Linked DNA regions of Homo sapiens: region 1 is linked to region 2. The links come from fine-mapping of genetic effects on gene expression. A gene starts in region 2. The other region holds a variant in brackets. All regions are shown on one strand. Distances are between the middles of the regions.

What was found. PIP is the estimated chance that this variant, and not a neighbour inherited with it, causes the effect.
Region 1: its variant is fine-mapped to the expression of PPP1R14A in whole blood (TOPMed, PIP 0.97).

The regions. Positions count from the first base shown.
Region 1 is chr19:38,362,332-38,371,184 of GRCh38, reverse strand. CATSPERG (catsper channel auxiliary subunit gamma) reads right to left here. Exons shown (of 29, transcript NM_021185.5): 19 at 8,611-8,809; 20 at 8,353-8,471; 21 at 6,214-6,294; 22 at 6,068-6,124; 23 at 3,873-4,029; 24 at 3,613-3,676; 25 at 3,409-3,504; 26 at 3,048-3,137; 27 at 1,121-1,213; 28 at 927-1,026; 29 at 242-659. The coding sequence ends at 393. Among named protein-coding and RNA genes, the nearest start is that of PSMD8, 7.8 kb to the left of the region's middle. RefSeq lists a silencer at 8,447-8,526 and an enhancer at 8,259-8,853. The variant TGG/G (reference allele first, on the strand shown) is at 4,339.
Region 2 is chr19:38,251,781-38,260,633 of GRCh38, reverse strand. PPP1R14A (protein phosphatase 1 regulatory inhibitor subunit 14A) reads left to right here and starts at 4,260. Exons shown (of 4, transcript NM_033256.3): 1 at 4,260-4,495; 2 at 7,660-7,740; 3 at 8,296-8,328. The coding sequence starts at 4,295. RefSeq lists a silencer at 4,281-4,468.

The DNA of each region.
Region 1 (8,853 bases), 110 kb before region 2:
CGCACCACCATGCCCAGCTAATTTTTTGTATTTGTAGTAGAGACAGGGTTACGAGTTTTCACCATGTGGGCCAGGGTGGTCTCAAACTCCTGACCTTAAGTGATCTGCCTCCTTCGATCTCCCGAAGTGCTGGGATTACCGGCATGAACCACCATGCCCAGCCAGGTTTATGATATTTTAATGTGCAGCTATGCTGGTACAAACCTTCTGAACTCGAGCTTTTAAGAGAGCCCACTGCTGGTCCTGAAAAAAGGCTTTATTTGAGTCTGAACGAGAAGTAAACATCAAGCAAAACAGAAAGAGAGGCCTGGGCTGGGTGACAGGTTGCATCTTCAAGATGGGCCTCATAAGAGAGGCGTGACAGTAACTGGGGGCTGGGGCAGGTGGGACACTCAGGTCATCAACTGTCTCTCCACGGCTTCCTTGGGTTCAGCCCTGTCCTCTGTCATCCTGGAGCTGAACATGGAGCCCATCCTGGAATGTCTCAGAGACGGCATGCTCGAGATTCCGGAAATGGAGGCGTAGGTGTAGTAGGATTCTGAGGCAATGAGGTTGTTTATCTTCCACCGGATCATCGTGCAGCCCTTCACCACGAGGGGCCACAGGAGGCAGAAGGCGATGTAGAAGATCACCAGGCCCACAAACACGCTAGCTGACACCTGCAGGGAGCAAAGAATGAGTAAGGAGTTGGCACATGATAAGGTACACAGTCCACAATCTGCATCCACAGTGACAGGGAAATTGACAGATGGAGGCATGACAGCAGGAGGAAATGAATGAGTAGACAGCCTGTGGCATGGCAGGCGTTCAGTCAGCATGGCTAGATGAGTGAATAAAGGAATGAATGAGCGAAGGTATAACAAGCATAGGTATGGAGGCGTGGGCCCCTGCCCACCCAGTAGGGCAGCTCCCGGACAGCCACTCACCATGATGATGAAAAGGGCCCGCTTGGGACTGAGTGGCAGCCCGTGGATGTGCAGCAGGAAGGTGAGCTGGTAGTTGCAGTAGGTGCTCGTGTCCACTCCTCTGCAGGGGTTGGGAGGGGATCCAGGATTAGAGGAGAAGCCAGGCATTCCATGGGCAGCCCCTGACCCGCACCTGGGCCACTTGCCTGGCTCACCTATTGCTCACCAACACCTTGAAGAAGAATTCAGGGGCAAAGATGCCTTGGGGAACATTGTCATAGCATGGGGCATTCTCCAGACAGAGCCACCTGCAAGCCAAAGATCAGGCAGTTGTGCTACCAACCATGCCTAGTCTGTGCCAACTCCCAATTTCTTCCTCCACCCAATGTTTTCGGTGAGGACCAAATGGGTGCAATCTCATGCCTTCCCTCATTCATTCCTTCATTCACTCATTCATTCATGCTGACTGAACGCCTACTGTGCCACAGGTTGTCTACTCATTCATTTCCTCCTGCCTTCACACCTCCATCTGTCAATTCCTCTGTCACTGTGCATCCATCCAGATTACAGGCTGTGTATCTATCATATGCCAAATCCTTATTCATTCTTTGCTGCTTGCATTCCTTTATCCCATAAATATAGCTTGAGCACTTACTAGGTACAAAGTCACATCTTTCATTTATTCCCTTCTTTATTCATTATCCAATAAATGCAGGTTAGGCCAGGCATAGTGGTTCACACCTATAATACCAGCACTTTGGGAGGCCGAGGCAGGTGGATCACTTGAGGTCAGGAGTTCAAGACCAGACTGACCAATATGGTGAAACCCCGTCTCTACAAAAAATACAAAAATTAGCGGGGCATGGTGGCATGCACCTGTAATCCCAGCTACACAGGAGGCTGAGTTGGGAGAATTACTTGAACCCAAGAGGCAGAGGTTGCAGTGAGCTGAGATTGTACTACTGCACTCCAGCCTGGGTGACGGAGCAAGACTCTGTCTCAAAAAAATAAATAAAAATAAAAAATAAAGCAGGTTAAATTCTGACTAGGTGCAAGTTGTTCGTTCATTCACTGCCTTCATTTGCTCATGGCTTCATTTTTTTCCTTTCATTGAATGAAACTTACTGAGCCCCTATATATGAATTTGTTTCTCCATTGTTTTATTCATTCATTAATACCCCCATTCAGATATCAATAAATGCCTGCCACGAATTGATTTATTCATTTGTTCATTCTTTCATTCAATACATGCTATGTTAACCAGCCTGGCCAACATGGTGAAACCCCGTCTCTACTAGAAAAAAAAATACAAAAATTAACCGGGCATGGTGGCATGTGCCTGTAATCCCAGTACTTTGGGAGGCTGAGGCAGGCGGATCACCTGAGGTCAGGAGTTCAAGATCAGCCTGACCAACGTGGTGAAACCCCATCCCTACTAAAAATACAAAAATTAGCCAGGCATGGTGGCGGGTGCCTGTAATCCCAGCTACTTGGGAGGCTGAGGCAGGAGAATTGCTTGAACCCAGGAGGCAGAGGCTGCAGTGAGCTGAGATTGTGCCACTGCACTCCAGCCTGGTGGGCCACAGAGGGAGCCTGTCTCAAAAAATAAACAGGAGGCTGAGACAGGAGAATCGCTTGAACCTGGAAGGTGGAGGTTGCAGTGAGCTGAGATCTTGCCACTGCATTCCAGCCTGGGCAACAAAGAGCAAAACTCCATCTCAAAAATAAAAACAAATTTATGAGTCTATTCAGGACCCAGTTCTGGAGGAGAGACAGACCCCACACCAGACAGTGACTGCCCAGAGCTGTCCACTCTGGGATGGGGACGCACAGGTAGGGGGCTCAGGGCCAGGATGGGAGAGCCCCAAGAGGCCATAGGAGCCATGAAGGGACAATTGTCCCATCTTGAAACAGAAAAGTCCTCCTGGCTGAAGGGGCATCTGCCTAAGGCCTGAAAAGAGTCGGAGGGAGCAGCATTCCAGGCAGAGACTTCAGCTTGTGCAAAGTTCAGCCCCATTTAAGTAACACAAAGGCAGTCAGTGTGACTTGGGGATCAAGAGGCCTCCTAGGGGCAGAAAGGATAGGTGGGCCCAATGGACTACCGACAGATGGGGGCCAAGAGGGGCCAGGCTACGCACTCACTCGATGCCTGGGCTCTCGTGGGACATGATGTGAAAGGCTGAGTCTTTGGTGGTCCTTGTGGTCCTCGTGGTCCAGATAAGGCTGTTGGTCCTGTGCAGGCCCAGGTCATCTCAGCCAGGGGTTGGGGGGCGGTGTAGGGGAGGTATGACCTCAGTGGTCAGTGTGGAGGGAGGCCACAGGTGGGTGCAGGGGACATGGTGTTAGGGGCGGGCAGGAGTTTGCCTGTGAGATCCTAAGAGCCCCACTGTGGGCAGGGCCTGAGACGCAGAGGTGGGGGCTTGCGAGGTGGGCTTGGCTTGGAAGTGGGAAAGGCCTCCAGGGGAAGCAAGGTGGATTACACGTGGGACCCCACGGGGATTACTTGTCCAGGGGGCTGTTGAAGCGGTAGATTTCGTCCTCACTGTAGTCCTTGAGGCTGTCCAGTGTGGGCCCGCCACCCACCACCAGCAGAACATAGCTACCAGGGACAGAAGTGCACACAGACTGGCCTCCGGGTCTCGAGTCCTGCACCCATCTCCTTCCACTCCCTCCACCTGCCCTAGCTGCAAGCTGGCCACGCCTTTACCTGCCCTGGAAACTGCCGGAGTCTCCTGTCACCAAATCTTGAATCAAGAAGAAGGGGTAGAAAACTATGGGGTTGGAGGGGATTGAGACCAGAAGAAGAAATTAGCTTGGCCCGAGAAGCTGAGGACCGAGACGGGGGAAAGTGAGATGCCGCAGGAAAAAGGGTGGGTAGTCTGCGGGGAGAGGAATGGGGAGGGAGAGCACAAAGTAGTGGGGGCAAGAGGGCAGTGAACTGTGCAGGGGAAGGGACTGGACACACACTGTCCCGGAAGAGAAAGCAGGGCATCTCCGGGTTCACGTTAACGCAGTCAAAGTAGTGTTTGTTCTTCAGGCGGCTGTATTCCAGCGTGTAGGTGATGTCGAAGGCCAGGCGCTTGCCTGGGGGGCAGCCAATGAACACTGGCACCATCAGGTTGCCCTCGGTGGGAGGAAAAAAGGCTCACAGGGGTGGCCAGGGTCTCCTCAGGCCCCTGGAGGGGTAAGGGGCAGGAAGGACAGTCCCCCTCCCACAAACACCACCACCAGCTGCCTGGCTCTCCCTCACCCCCAAGGGCAATATGGTCATTAATATCATTAACACGGCCTGGTGCAGTGGCTCATGCCTGTAATCCCAGAACTTCGGGAGGCCGAGGCGGGCTGATCACTTGAGTCCAGGAGTTCGAGACTAGCCTGGCCAGCACAGTAAAACCCTGTCTCTACTAAAAATACAAAAAATTAGCTGGGTGTG[TGG/G]TGGTGCATGCCTGTAATCCCAGCTACTCGGGAGGCAGAGGCTGGAGAATCGCTTGAACCAGGGAGGTAGAGGCCAAGACTGCACCACTGCACTCCAGCCTGGGTGACAGAGCAGGACTCTGTCTCAAAAAAAAAAAAAAAAAGACCGAGAGCCTGCCTGTTCTCTCCCCTAAACCTCCAACTCCTTTGCCCCCACCCTGTTTTGTCCAACCTTGTCTCTTCCAGAGTCTCCCTGCTTCCAGTCCCCTCATTGATGTCCCCCCACCCCATGCAGCCAGATGGGCCCTGGGGACACCCGAGTCCCTCCTCTGCTTAGAGCCCTCCCGAGGAGCCAGCTCACATACCATGGCCCATAAGGGCTCCGCTTACTCTGCCCCATCACTGCTCCGAGCTCATCCCACCACGTTCCCCCTTGCCCACCCTGATGCAATCACACTTCCTCCTTGTTTATTCAGTCTAGCACATGAAATCTCATGTACTCTAAGGAGGTGGGGGCTGTTACAACCCCTTTTGACTGCCCAAGGTCATTCTAAGCCAGGAGGGAGGAACACCAGGATCTGCATGCCAGGGAGTGGGTAGGGAAATGGGTGAGAACAAGAACTCTGGGGCACGCCCCTCCTCTACCACTTATTAGCTCCCTGGGTTACTCTGCACCTCTCTGAGCCTCAGTGTCTGCCCCGGGCAAAGGCGATATCACGTGTATAAGCAAGTGAAGCACCAAGCACCCAAAGAACTGAATGAGGAATGTGTGAGTGGGCAGAAGAAGAGAGAGATGTGAAAGCAGGGCCAGGCCAGCCCTTATGCCACCTTTGTGCCAATTGCAAAAAGTGGCCCTAGGTCGGGCACGGTGGCTCACACCTGTAATCCCAGCACTTTGGGAGGCCAAGGCCGGCAGATCACCTGAGGTTAGGAGTTCAAGACCAGCCTGGCCAACATGGTGAAACTCCGTCTCTATTTAAAATATAAAAAATTAGCTAGGCATGGTGGTATGCAACTGTAATCCCAGCTACTTGGGAGGCTGAGGCAGGAGAATCGCTTGAACCCGGGAGGTGGAGGTTGCAGTGAGCCGAGATTGCACCATTGCACTCCAGCCTGGGGGACAAGAGTGAGACATCGTTAAAAAAAAAACAAAAAACAAAAAAAAAACGGCCCTGTTGCTCACTCTATTCTCCCTCTGAAGAAAAGTTATCAGAGGGAACATACCAGTTTGTGTGCAACCTGCACAACTGGGAAGGTGGCCCTTTCTGAAAACGTGAATGAATGAAAGGAGTTAGGCCGGGCATGGTGGCTCACACCTGGAATCCCAGCACTTTGGGAGGCTGAGGCGGGTGGATCATTTGAGTTTAGGAGTTTGTGACCATCCTGGCCAACATGGAAAAACTCTGTCTCCACTAAAAATACAAAAAATTAGCCAGCCGTGGTGGCGGGCGCCTATAATCCCAGCTACTTGGGAGGCTGAGGCAGGAGAATCACTTGAGCCAAGGAGGCAAAGTGAGCCAAGACCGCGCCGCCGCACTCCAGCCTGGGCAACAAGAGTGAAACTCCGTCTTAAAGAAAAAAGAATGAAAGGAGTTAGTGGGTGGTAGTGGGTGGGTGGATGAATGTTGAGAAAGAATGAGAAGAAAGGAAATTATGAATGCATTAGTGGGATTCTCAGGGGGATTAGCCCTGTTGAGACCCGACCCCAACCTTCCCCTCCCAGGGCCCAGTATCCCAAGCTCCAATACTTGCATATGGGGCCCCAGGTGTGTTTCCTGGAAGCAGAGCCCGGATGAACCCACCACCTGTGGGTAGGAGCAGGTGAAGATGGTGATCCCCGCCGGCCCAGGCTTTCCCACCATCCTGCACCCTCCCCTCCAGGCTTGGACCTCACATTGACCGTCATGGAAGTCTCCATAAGGTGATGTCCACTAATGCCTTGGTCATAGCAAAGCTTTTTATCCTTGAGCGTAATCTGGGGTTGAAGGAGGGGAGAGGCAGAAATGAAGGGGTGAACAGGTCTCCCCAAAGTCCAACAAACAGTTCAAATAACCCATAGCTGGGGCGAGGTGGTGGCTGGTAGGAAAACGGAAGGCTGCCATTTTCTACTCAGGAATAGGCTAACGGGGTGTTGGCCGGGCTGGTCTCCAGCTCCTAACCGCGAGTGATCCGCCAGCCTCGGCCTCCCGAGGTGCCGGGATTGCAGACGGAGTCTGGTTCACTCAGTGCTCAATGGTGTCCAGGCTGGAGTGCAGTGGCGTGATCTCGGCTTGCTACAACCTCCGCCTCCCAGCCGCCTGCCTTGGCCTCCCAAAGTGCCAAGAGTGCAGCCTCTGCCCGGCCGCCACCCCGTCTGGGAAGTGAGGAGTGTCTCTGCCTGGCTGCCCATCGTCTGGGACGTGAGGAGCCCCTCTGCCTGGCTGCCCACTCTGGAAAGTGAGGAGCGTCTCTGCCCGGCCGCCCATCGTCTGAGATGTGGGGAGTGCCTCTGCCCCGCTGCCCCGTCTGGGATGTGAGGAGCGCCTCTGTCCGGTCGCGACCCCATCTGGGAGGTGAGGAGCGTCTCTGCCCAGCCGCCCTGTCTGAGAAGTGAGGAGACCCTCCGCCTGGCAACCGCCCCGTCTGAGAAATGAGGAGCCCCTCCGCCCGGCAGCCACCCTGTCTGGGAAGTGAGGAGCGTCTCCGCCCGGCAGCCACCCCGTCCTGGAGGGAGGTGGGGGTCAGCCCCCGCCAGGCCAGCCGCCCCGTCCGGGAGGGAGGTGGGGGGGTCAGCCCCCCGCCCGGCCAGCTGCCCCGTCCGGGAGGTGAGGGGCACCTCTGCCCGGCCGCCCCTGCTGGGAAGTGGGGAGCCCCTCTGCCCGGCCACCACCCCGTCTGGGAGGTATGCCCAACAGCTCATTGAGAACGGGCCATGATGACAATGGCGGTTTTGTGGAGTGGAAAGCGGGGAAGGGTGGGGAAAAGATTGAGAAATCGGATGGTTGCCGTGTCTGTGTAGAAAGAAGTAGACATGGGAGACTTTTCATTTTGTTTTGTACTGGGAAAAATTCTTCTGCCTTGGGATCCTGTTGATCTGTGACCTTACCCCCAACCCTGTGCTCTCTGAAACATGTGCTGTGTCCACTCAGGGTTAAATGGATTAAGGGCGGTGCAAGATGTGCTTTGTTAAACAGATGCTTGAAGGCAGCATGCTCGTTAAGAGTCATCACCACTCCCTAATCTCAAGTACCCAGGGACACAAACACTGCGGAAGGCCCCAGGGTCCTCTGCCTAGGAAAACCAGAGACCTTTGTTCACTTGTTTATCTGCTGACCTTCCCTCCACTATTGTCCTAGAAACACCCAAGAATGATCAATAAAAAAAAAAAAAAAAAAAAGGAATAGGCTAACGGGGCCAAGCACAGGGTGGTTCATGCCTCACACCTCACACCTCACGCCGAGGCATGAGGATCTCTTGAGTCCAGGAATTCGAGGCCAGCCTGGGCAACATAGGGAGACCCCCGTCTCTACAAAAAATAAAAAGTTAAGGCTGGGTGCAGTGGCTCACGCTTGTAATCCCAGCACTTTGGGAGGCCAAAGTGGGCAGATTATTTGAGGTCAGGAGTTCAAGACTAGCCTGGCCAACATGGTAAAACCCCATCGCTACTAATAATACAAAAAATTAGCTGGGTGTAGTGGCATGCACCTGTAATCTCAGCTACTAGGGAGGCTGAGGCAGGAGACTCGGTTGAATCTGGGAGGCAGAGGTTACAGTGAGCCGAGATCGTGCCATTGCACTCCAGCCTGGGCGACTGAGCAAGACTCCGTCTCAAAAGAAAAACAAAAAGTTCACTGGGCACTGTGGTGCGTGCCTGCAGTCCCAGCTACTCAGGAGGTTGAGGGAGGAGGATCGCTTGAGCCCAGGAGGCCAAGAATGCAGTGATCGCTCCACTGGCACTCCAGCCTGAGCGACAGAGCAAGACCCTGTCTCCAAAAAAAAAAAAAAAAAAAAAAAACAAAACCTCCCTTGATCCCAACTCCCCGGGGGGCCTCACCGAAAATAGCACCGAGTTGCGATTAATCAGGACCTCCTGCTTCACCGAGGCCTCGATGCAGCCGGGGTCGGCCAGCACCACGCCCACGTCCACCTGGCTATGCAGCTGGAAGGCGGTGCCTGCTCCGGGCAGTAAACGGGGTTAAGGCCTCCCTCACAGACAGGCCCCGCCCCTCCGATGGTGTCCCCGCCCCCCAGGCTCCCAGATTCTGGTAGCCCTCGCCCCGCCCTTCGGGCTCCACTCTGGTCCCGCGCAGACCGAGTTCTGACTGCGTCCGGAACGAGTGGCCCTGCGCCGACAGGAAGATGGCGAAGCTGTACTCAGTGCCCTTGTCCAGGAAAATGCGCTCCGGCAGCTCGTACGCGGACTCGAGGTTGTAGATCTTTTCGTAGCTGTCCATTTCTATGGACACGCCGCCCGCGCTTCGCCAATTGCTCGCCAAGAAGAAGTAGTAATCCTGGGGTACCGGATGCGCGGGGCAGAGTCAGCGCCGGGGGTGGG
Region 2 (8,853 bases):
AGTCTCCCAAGTAGCTGGGATTACAGGCTTGTACCACCACACCCGGCTAATTTTTGTATTTTTATGGAGATGGGGTTTCACCATGTTGGCCAGGCAGGTCTTGAACTCCTGACCTCAGGTGATCTGCCTGCCTTGGCCTCCCAAAGTGCTGGGATTACAGGCATGAGCCACCATGCCCGGCCTTGGTCAGCTTTTTATTTTTAAATTCTCTACAGACAGTGCACCCTCTTTTTGCCTGTACCCAAAGTGGACCAGTCCTGTCCCCCTGCCTTTAGTATGCTACTAGTTGGGAAACAGACAATAATTTTTTTTTTCTGTCACTGCACAGAACAGAAAATATGACATTTTTCTTTTTGAGACAGGGTCTCACTCCATCACCCAGGCTGGAGTGCAGTGGTGCAATCACAGTTCACTGCGTCCTCCATCTCCTGGACTCAAGTGATCCTCCCAACTCAGCCTCCAGAGTAACTGGGACTACAAGCATGTACTATTGCACCTGGCTTTTTTTTTTTTTTTTTTTTTTTGTAGCGACAGGGTCTCACTATGTTGCCCAAGCTGATCTTGAACTCCTGGATGTAATTGCTCCTCCTGCCTCAGCATCCTATAGTGCTGAGATTACAGGTGTGAGCCACCACGCCTGGCATGGACAATACATTAAATGAGTACATTATATATAATGTTAGAGGCCAGGCATGGTGGCTCATGCCTGTAATTCCAGCACTTTGGGAGGTCAAGACGGGCAGATCGTCTGAGGTCAGGAGTTCGAGACCAGCCTGACCAACATGGTGAAACCCCATCTCTACTGAAAATATAAAAAGTAAGCGGACACAGTGGTGTATAACTGTAGTCCCAGCTACTCAGGAGGCTGAAGCAGGAGAATCTCTTGAACCCAGGAGGCAGAGGTTGCAGTGAGCCATGATCACAATACTATACTCCAGCCTGAGGTGACTCCAACTCAAAAAAAAAAAAAAAAAAAAAAAAAAAAAAAAAAAAATATATATATATATATATATATATATAATGTTAGAAAGTGGTAAGTGTTATGTATCAAACAGAGCTGGATGAGGGGCACGAGAGTTGCAGTGTGAAATAGCGTGGCCAGGGAAGACCTCACTGAACAGTGACATTGGAGGGAGGTGAAGGAGTGAGCCCTGATGATATTCTAGGGAAGAACCTTCCTGGCAGAGGGAACTGCGAGTGAAAGGTGCTGGTGCTGAAATGGGACTGTCCCTGGCAGAGATGGGACTGCTAAACCAGAGTTTGGCCTTTAGACTGAAGGTCATGGGTAGCTATGGATAGTTGTTTTTTATTTTTGTTTTTTTAGAGATGGGGTCTTTCTCTGTCGCCCAGGCTGGAGTGTGATGGCACGATCTCAGCTCACTGCAGCCTCCGCCTCCCAGGTTCAAGCAATTCTCCCACCTCAGCCTCCTGAGTAGCTGGGATTACAGGGGTGCACCACCATGCTTGGCTAATTTTTTTTGCATTTTTAGTAGAGACGGGTTCACCATGTTGGTCAGGCTGGTCTCAAACTCCTGACCTCAGATAATCCACTCACCTCAGCCTCCCAAAGTGCTGGGATTACAGACGTGAACCATGGCGCCTGGCCTGTTTTTAATTTTGAAATAAAACAGCTTTATTGAAGCCGGGCACGGTGGCTCACGCCTGTAATCCCAGCACTTTGGGAGGCCTAGGCAGGTGGATTACCTGAGGTCAGGAGTTCAAGACCAGCCTGGCCAACATGGTGAAACCCCGTTTCTACTAAAAATACAAAAATTAGCCAGGCGTGGTGGCACACCCCTGTAATCCCAGCTACTCGGGAGGCTGAGGCAGGAGAATTGCTTGAGCCTGGGAGGCAGAGGTTGCAGTGAGCTGAGATCATGCCAGTGCACTCCAGCCTGGCCAACAGAGCGAGATTCTGCCTCAAAAAAAAAAAAAAAAAAAAAAAAAAACACAGTCTTATTGAGATATAACTCACATACCATACAACTCACCCTTTATTTATTTAGAGATGGAGTTTCACTTTTGTTGCCCAGGATGGAGTGCAATGGCATGATCTCAGCTCACTGCAACATCCCCCTCCCAGGTTCAAGCGATTCTCCTGCCTCAGCCTCCTGAGTAGTTGGGATTATAGGCATGTGCCCCCATGCCCAGCTAATTTTTGTATTTTTAGTGGAGATGGGGTTTCACCATGTTGGCCAGGCTGGTCTCTAACTCTTGACCTCCGATGATCCATCCGCCTTGCCCTCCCAAAGTGCTGGGATTACAGGCGTGAGTCACTGTGCCTGGCCCAACTCACCTTTTTAAAGTGTATAGTTTGGCCAGGTGTGGTGGCTCGTCCCAGCACCTTATGAGTTTCATGACTGCAATTTTTTTCCTCCCATTCCATGGGTTGTCTCTTCACTTTCTTGATGATGTTCTTTGAAACTCAAAAGTTTTACATTATGGCTGGCTGGTGGAGTGAGGTGGCTCATGCCTATAATCCCAGCACCTTGGGAGGCCGAGGTGGGAGGATCGCTTGAGCCCAGGAATTGGAGAACAGCCTAGGCAACATAGGGAGACCCTGTCTCTACAATTTTTTTTTTTTTTTTTGAGATGGAGTCTTGCTCTGTCACCCAGGCTGGAGTGCAGTGGTGCGATCTTGGCTCACCGCAATCTCTGCCTCCTGGGTTCAAGCAATTTTCCTGCCTCAGCCTCCCCAGTAGCTGCAATTACAGGTGCACACCACTACGCCTGGCTTTTTTTTTTTTTTTTTTGTATTTTTAGTAAAGATGGGGTTTCATCATGTTGGCCTGGCTGGTCTTGAATTCCAGACCTCGTGATCTGCCCACCTCGGCCTCTCAAAGTGCTGGGATTACAGGCATGAGCCACCATGCCTGGCCTTTTTAAAAAAATTATTTATTATTATTTTATTTATTTATTTATTTTGAGACAGAGTCTCGCTCTTGTTGCCCAGGCTGGAGTGCAATGGTGCTATCTTGGCTCACTGCAACCTCCACCTCCCGGGTTCAAGCGATTCTCCTGCCTCAGCCTTCCGAGTAGCTGGGATTACAGGCATGTGCCACCAGGCCCAGCTAATTTTTGTATTTTTAGTAGAGATGGAGTTTCACCATGTTGGCCAGGCTGGTCTTGAACTCCTGACCTCGTGATCCACCCTCCTTGGCCTCCCAAAGTTCTGGGATTACAGGAGTGAGCCACTGCGCCCAGCCACATTTAAATTTTAGAGTATAATTATTGCTGCTTATAATTAGAAGTGAGAAGACTGTTTTGAAGTAAGGGACTTCCCTGGCCACCCTCGCTAAAATTGCAACCTTACCCTCACTCCATTTCTCCTTCTCTGCTTTATATTTCTCCAAAGCACTTATATGATAATAAACTGTATAATACCGTACTTACTGTGTTTCTCATGTATCCCGGCTACAACTGTCAACTGCGTGGGACTGGTTTTGTCTGTTTTGTTCCCTGCTCTATCCCTGGAGCGTAAAGCAGTGTCTGGTATAGAGTGGATACTTAATAGATATTCGTTGAACCGGGCCAGTGGCGGTGGCTCACGCCTGTAATCCCAGCACTTTGGGAGGCGGAGGCAGGCAGATCACTTGAGGTCAGGAGTTCGAGGCCAGCCTGGCCAACATGGCGAAATCCCGTCTCTACTAAAAATACAAAAATTAGCCGGGTGTTGTGGTGCATCCCTGTAATCCCAGCTACTTCGGAGGCTGAGGCAGGAGAATCGCTTGAACCTGGGAGGCGGACGTTGCGGTGAGCCGAGATCGCGCCATTGTACTCCAGCCTGGGCGACAAAGAGAGACATCGACTCAAAAAAAAAAAAATTCGTTGAACGGAATGAGTGAACAAACAAATGGATGGATGAGTGAATGAATGAACGAAGGAACAAGTGACCGCTCGACCTTCTACAGCGACAGCGGCGCAGGCGCTCCCGCACCAACAGCCCCCCACCCCGCCACCGCCAGAGGGCGCAGACAGGCCGGGTCCCGAGTGTCTGTCCCAGGCCCCCGCCCCACAGGATCCCGGCCCGGGAGCCCCCGATGCAGGGACCCGCCCGGGACTCTGGGTCCCCGCCCATACCTCAACTTCGCACGACTGCGTGCCTCAAGCCGACGCAGCGGCCTACTCTCGCACTGCAGACGGGGAAACTGAGGCCTGAGGCGGCCGGGGTGGGGCAGACCTCCCGGCGAGCCCGAGCCCCCGCCCCCGGCTAGCCCCGCCCTGGCCCGTAAGAAGCACCCGGGGCGCGAGGCGAAGGCGCACAGCGCGGGGCCAGGCTGGGTCCAGCAGCGCGATGGCAGCTCAGCGGCTGGGCAAGCGCGTGCTGAGCAAGCTGCAGTCTCCATCGCGGGCCCGCGGGCCAGGGGGCAGTCCCGGGGGGCTGCAGAAGCGGCACGCGCGCGTCACCGTCAAGTATGACCGGCGGGAGCTGCAGCGGCGGCTGGACGTGGAGAAGTGGATCGACGGGCGCCTGGAGGAGCTGTACCGCGGCATGGTGAGCCCGGGGAGGGCTCGGGGGTGGTCGGGGACAGATAGAGCCCGGGCGCGGAGACCCCACGCCCTTGGGGTCTCGGTGCACACTCGCTGGTGCACGGCCAGCCTGGTCTGCACAAGAGGACGAGCGCCCCAGGGCCGGGCACTCATTGGCCTGGCCATCCGTGCTCTATGGCATTGTGCTTGTGGACACACCGAGAGCAACACACAAAGACTTGGGTCTCCAGAGATGTGTCCAAACGCCTGTGGAGGGCCAGGGGTTTAGCATGAGGAGGGAGGAGGCTAAGTTGAGCTGAAACCGCCACGTCTGGAGAAAGAGTGGGGGAAGGGGGGTGTCATAAAGCCAAACACAGACATGGTGACAGGGGAGATACAGCCACACAGAGACCCACGGCAAAGGAAGCAAAAGCAGACACAGATGTGCACAGTGAAGGAAGCTATAGCCACTCACGGACACAGCCCAGAAGTAACAGCCATGCACAAACCCACAAGGACACAAGCGGGGGCTGGGGGGGGGTCACCTACAGTTCAACATATGCTACAGTCACAGCCACCCGCAGACACAGCGGCATGGGCCACAGCCGTAGGCAGACACAGCACAACCCCACTGGAACACAAAATGACTCAAGTTACGGCCCTTCCTTATCTCCTAAAGAAAAAACTGACCACCTTCAAGCACAAGCGCTGATCCGCAGCCACTCAAAGACATAAAACAACAGAAATTGGCCCAGCACAGTGGCTCACGCATTTTGTGAGGCCGGGGCAGGAGGATTGCTTGACGTCAGGAGTTCAACACCAGCCTGGGCAACATGGGGAAAACCTGTCTCTACCAAAAATCTTAAAACTTAGCCGGGCGTGGTGGCATGCACGCACTTGTAATCTCAGCTCCTCAGGAGGCTGAGGTGGGAGGATTGCTTGAGCCTGAGAGGCCAAGGTCACAGTGAGCCAAGATTGCACCACTGCACTCCAGCCTGGGCAACAGAGCGAGACCGTGTCTCAAAAACAAACAAAACCCAACAGAATTTATAACTACACCCAGACATAAAACTGTGTAAGCACCGGGCACGGTGGCTCACGCCTGTAATCCCAGCACTTTGGGAGGCCGAGGCGGGCGGATCACCTGAGGTCAGGAGTTTGAGACCAGCCTGATCAACATGGAGAAATCCCGTCTCTACTAAAAAATACAAAATTAGCCGGGTGTGGTGGCACATGCCTGTAATCCCAGCTACTCGGGAGGAGAATCGCTTGAACCCGGGAGGAGGAGGTTGCGGTGAGCCGAGATCCCGCCATTGCCCTCCAGCCTGGGCAACAAGAGCGAAACTCCGTCTCAAAAACAAACAAACAAACAAAAAACTGTAAGCTATAGGAACAGGTGGACATACAACTGCAGAACCCACCGCTGCTCACAGGCACACAAGAGCCTAAGCCACAGCTACATGTATTGACACACACAGGTACTTCATCACTTGAGTTTCTGCTTGAAGTCACACTTTCAGTGACTTCTTTTTTCTTTTCCTTAGAGGTGGGGCCTCATTGGCCGAGCACAGTGGCTCACGCCTGTAATCCCAGAACTTTGGGAGGCCAAGGTGGGCAGATCACTTGAGGTCAGGAGTACGAGACTAGCCTGGCCAACATGGTGAAACCCTGTCTCTACTAAAATTACAAAAATTAGCCGGGCATGGTGGCAGGCAGCTGTAATCCCAGCTACTTGGGAGGCTGAGGCAGGAGAATCACTTGAACCCGGGAGGCGGAGGTTGCAGTGAGCCAAGATCGCGCCATTGTACTCCACCCTAGGTGACAGAAGGAGACTTTGTCTCAAAAAAAAGAAAAAAGAAAAAGAGATGGGGCCTCGCTATGTTGCTCAGGCTGATCTTGAACTCCTAGGCTCAAGCAATTCTCTCTTGTCGGCCTCCCAAAATGTCAGGATTACAGGCGTGAGCCACTGCGCCTGGCCTTCTGTGACTTCTGTATGCTACAGTGTACACAGGACCCACGAGTCCTCCTCTTCATGGTGCGACAATGGTGGAAGGCATGGCCCTTCTCCCATGGTGACATGCAGTCCCTCTGTTCTCAGACTCACACCTGGGCCCATACAGGTGAACCAATCTGGTTGCTAGTGGCAGGTGGCATCTATGAGGCCATTCTCAGGTGGTGGGCCCCACAGCTGACTGTGGACACATGCTGATGTGTCACACACCCAAGCCAGAGCCACACACCTCACACCTGCAGGACCACAGTCCACTATACGAAGCCACTGCACGATGCCAGGTCCCTCTGCATCCTCGGCCAGCCCCAGGCCCTTGGCATCAGGCTGTGGCCCTGGCAGAGACTCACACACCTGTGTCCTTGCTGAAGCCCCTTCACCACACATGAACCAGGACCATCCAGCCCTGAAGCCCCAGGCCTGAAGCCGACAGCCGGACTTTGGGTTGGGGAGGAAAGGATTCATAACCCCAAGGCTCTCTTGCTCCCTCGACAGCTGGGGACAGCTGGGTCCTATTCCCAGCAGGGGTACTGAGCCAGCCTGCGCTTGGGCCACTGCCTGTAGAGGCCACACTCAGCGCCCCGCTCTTAGCAGCTGAGTTGAGCCATGACTCATCCCACCCACCCACCTTGAGGGGCCTCGGTGGTCCTCCCTTCGGTCTCACCAGGCTGCATTTTGGCCCTCTGGGGGCTGGCCCAAGCCGTCCCCTCCCTTCCTGTCCCCTCCCTTCCTGTCCCCTGGGGGAAGGGGCCGCCCCAGCTGGCTGCTGGCTGCCAGCCTCTCCTCCCCTGCACCTAGTGCTAAGACTTTTCCTTGAAAGGGCAGAAGCCAGCTCCTCTCCCGAATCCCAGAATCTGACATTCCAGGACTCCACTAGGCCTGTTTTCCTCTGTGGGAACTAGAGCCAAGGCGAGAGACCCGTGCCAGCCCCGAGGCTCCCGGGGCCCATGGGCCCAGGCATCGGGCTGGTACAGGGCCCCGGGGCTCTCTCAGCCCATCTGTCACCCCTCCCCCCCAACACCCAGATGTCCCGTCTTGGCAGTGCTGTCCCGGACTGCCACATTAATGCTCCAGAACCCGCCAGCTGGGCCCTGGGGCCGGTGGGGCTCCTGCAGAGCCCTGGACAAAGGCGAGGGAGGGAGGGAAGGGGATCCTAAGCACCCCTCCCTCCCTGGCCCTAGGAGGCAGACATGCCCGATGAGATCAACATTGATGAATTGTTGGAGTTAGAGAGTGAAGAGGAGAGAAGCCGGAAAATCCAGGTAGGTGGGGGGACGTGTCCCCCAGCCTCCCACTTTGCACCTCCCTAAAAATAATAGCAATAGTTCACGTGTTTACTGAGTGCTCACTAGATGCCGGGCACTGGTGTGATGGCTTTACATGTATTCACTCACTTAACCCTCACAAAACCCTCCGAAGCAGGCGCTAGTGTGAGCTCCATTTTCCCCATGAGGAAAATGAGGCCCAGAGAGGTTGAATCCCTTGCCCAGTGTCACACAGCTCAGAAGGAGCAGAGCTGGGCATCGAACCCAGGCAGTTTGGCAGCCATGTCTTTGCTTATGGCTTATACCTTTTTAGAGGAGGGAAGTGCTGTGTGACCCTCTCGCCCTCTCTGGATCTAGTAACTCACCCCTGCCCTGAGTCGATCCACATGCCCCTTGGGCTCTGTTCCTCTCTTGAAGCTTGGTGGGCAGTCCACCCTGGAGTCTGACTTCCATTTGTCTTGCTGCTGGGGCCTTTTGGGAAAGGGAAGGGGCTGGAGGGGAGTAGGTGTTAGTCATTTACTGTTTTGTTTTGTTCTTGGTTGGGGGTTTTAGGGACTCCTGAAGTCATGTGGGAAACCTGTCGAGGTGAGTTTTCTCTCCCTCATTCTCTCCCTGTTCTGGCCCCAAGTACTCTGATGGGGGAGGGGGAAGAAGCTGGCAGAAGGGTCTCTGGGGAACACCACCCGGCCCCACCACCCCCGGCCCCAACCTGCCCTCCGCAGCTCTTTCTGGTCTCCAGGGGTGTCTTTTGTCCTCCTACTTGTCTCTCTCCCTCTCTCCCCCATCTGCTGAGGGGGCTCCATTCTGTCCTCCCCCATCTGCCCTGTTTTTGCCTCTCCTGTGCCTGTCCTTTGGCCACCAGCCTTCGGGCTCAGTCTCCCTCTGTCCTCCCCTGTCACTGCCTCCGCCACCCCGGGCTCCCTTCCCCACCTCTGGGGGCCCTCCATCCTCCCAGGCCCTGAAGCTGAGCGGCCCAACCCCTCCCACTTCCTTCCCTGCTTTAAAAGGGAAAACTATTCATGTTTCTCCAACTAGCTCTAGGGACAAACGTCATTGCATTTCTGTTCGCCCTGGATCTATCTCTGGGGACCTGTCTCCACATGTCTCTGT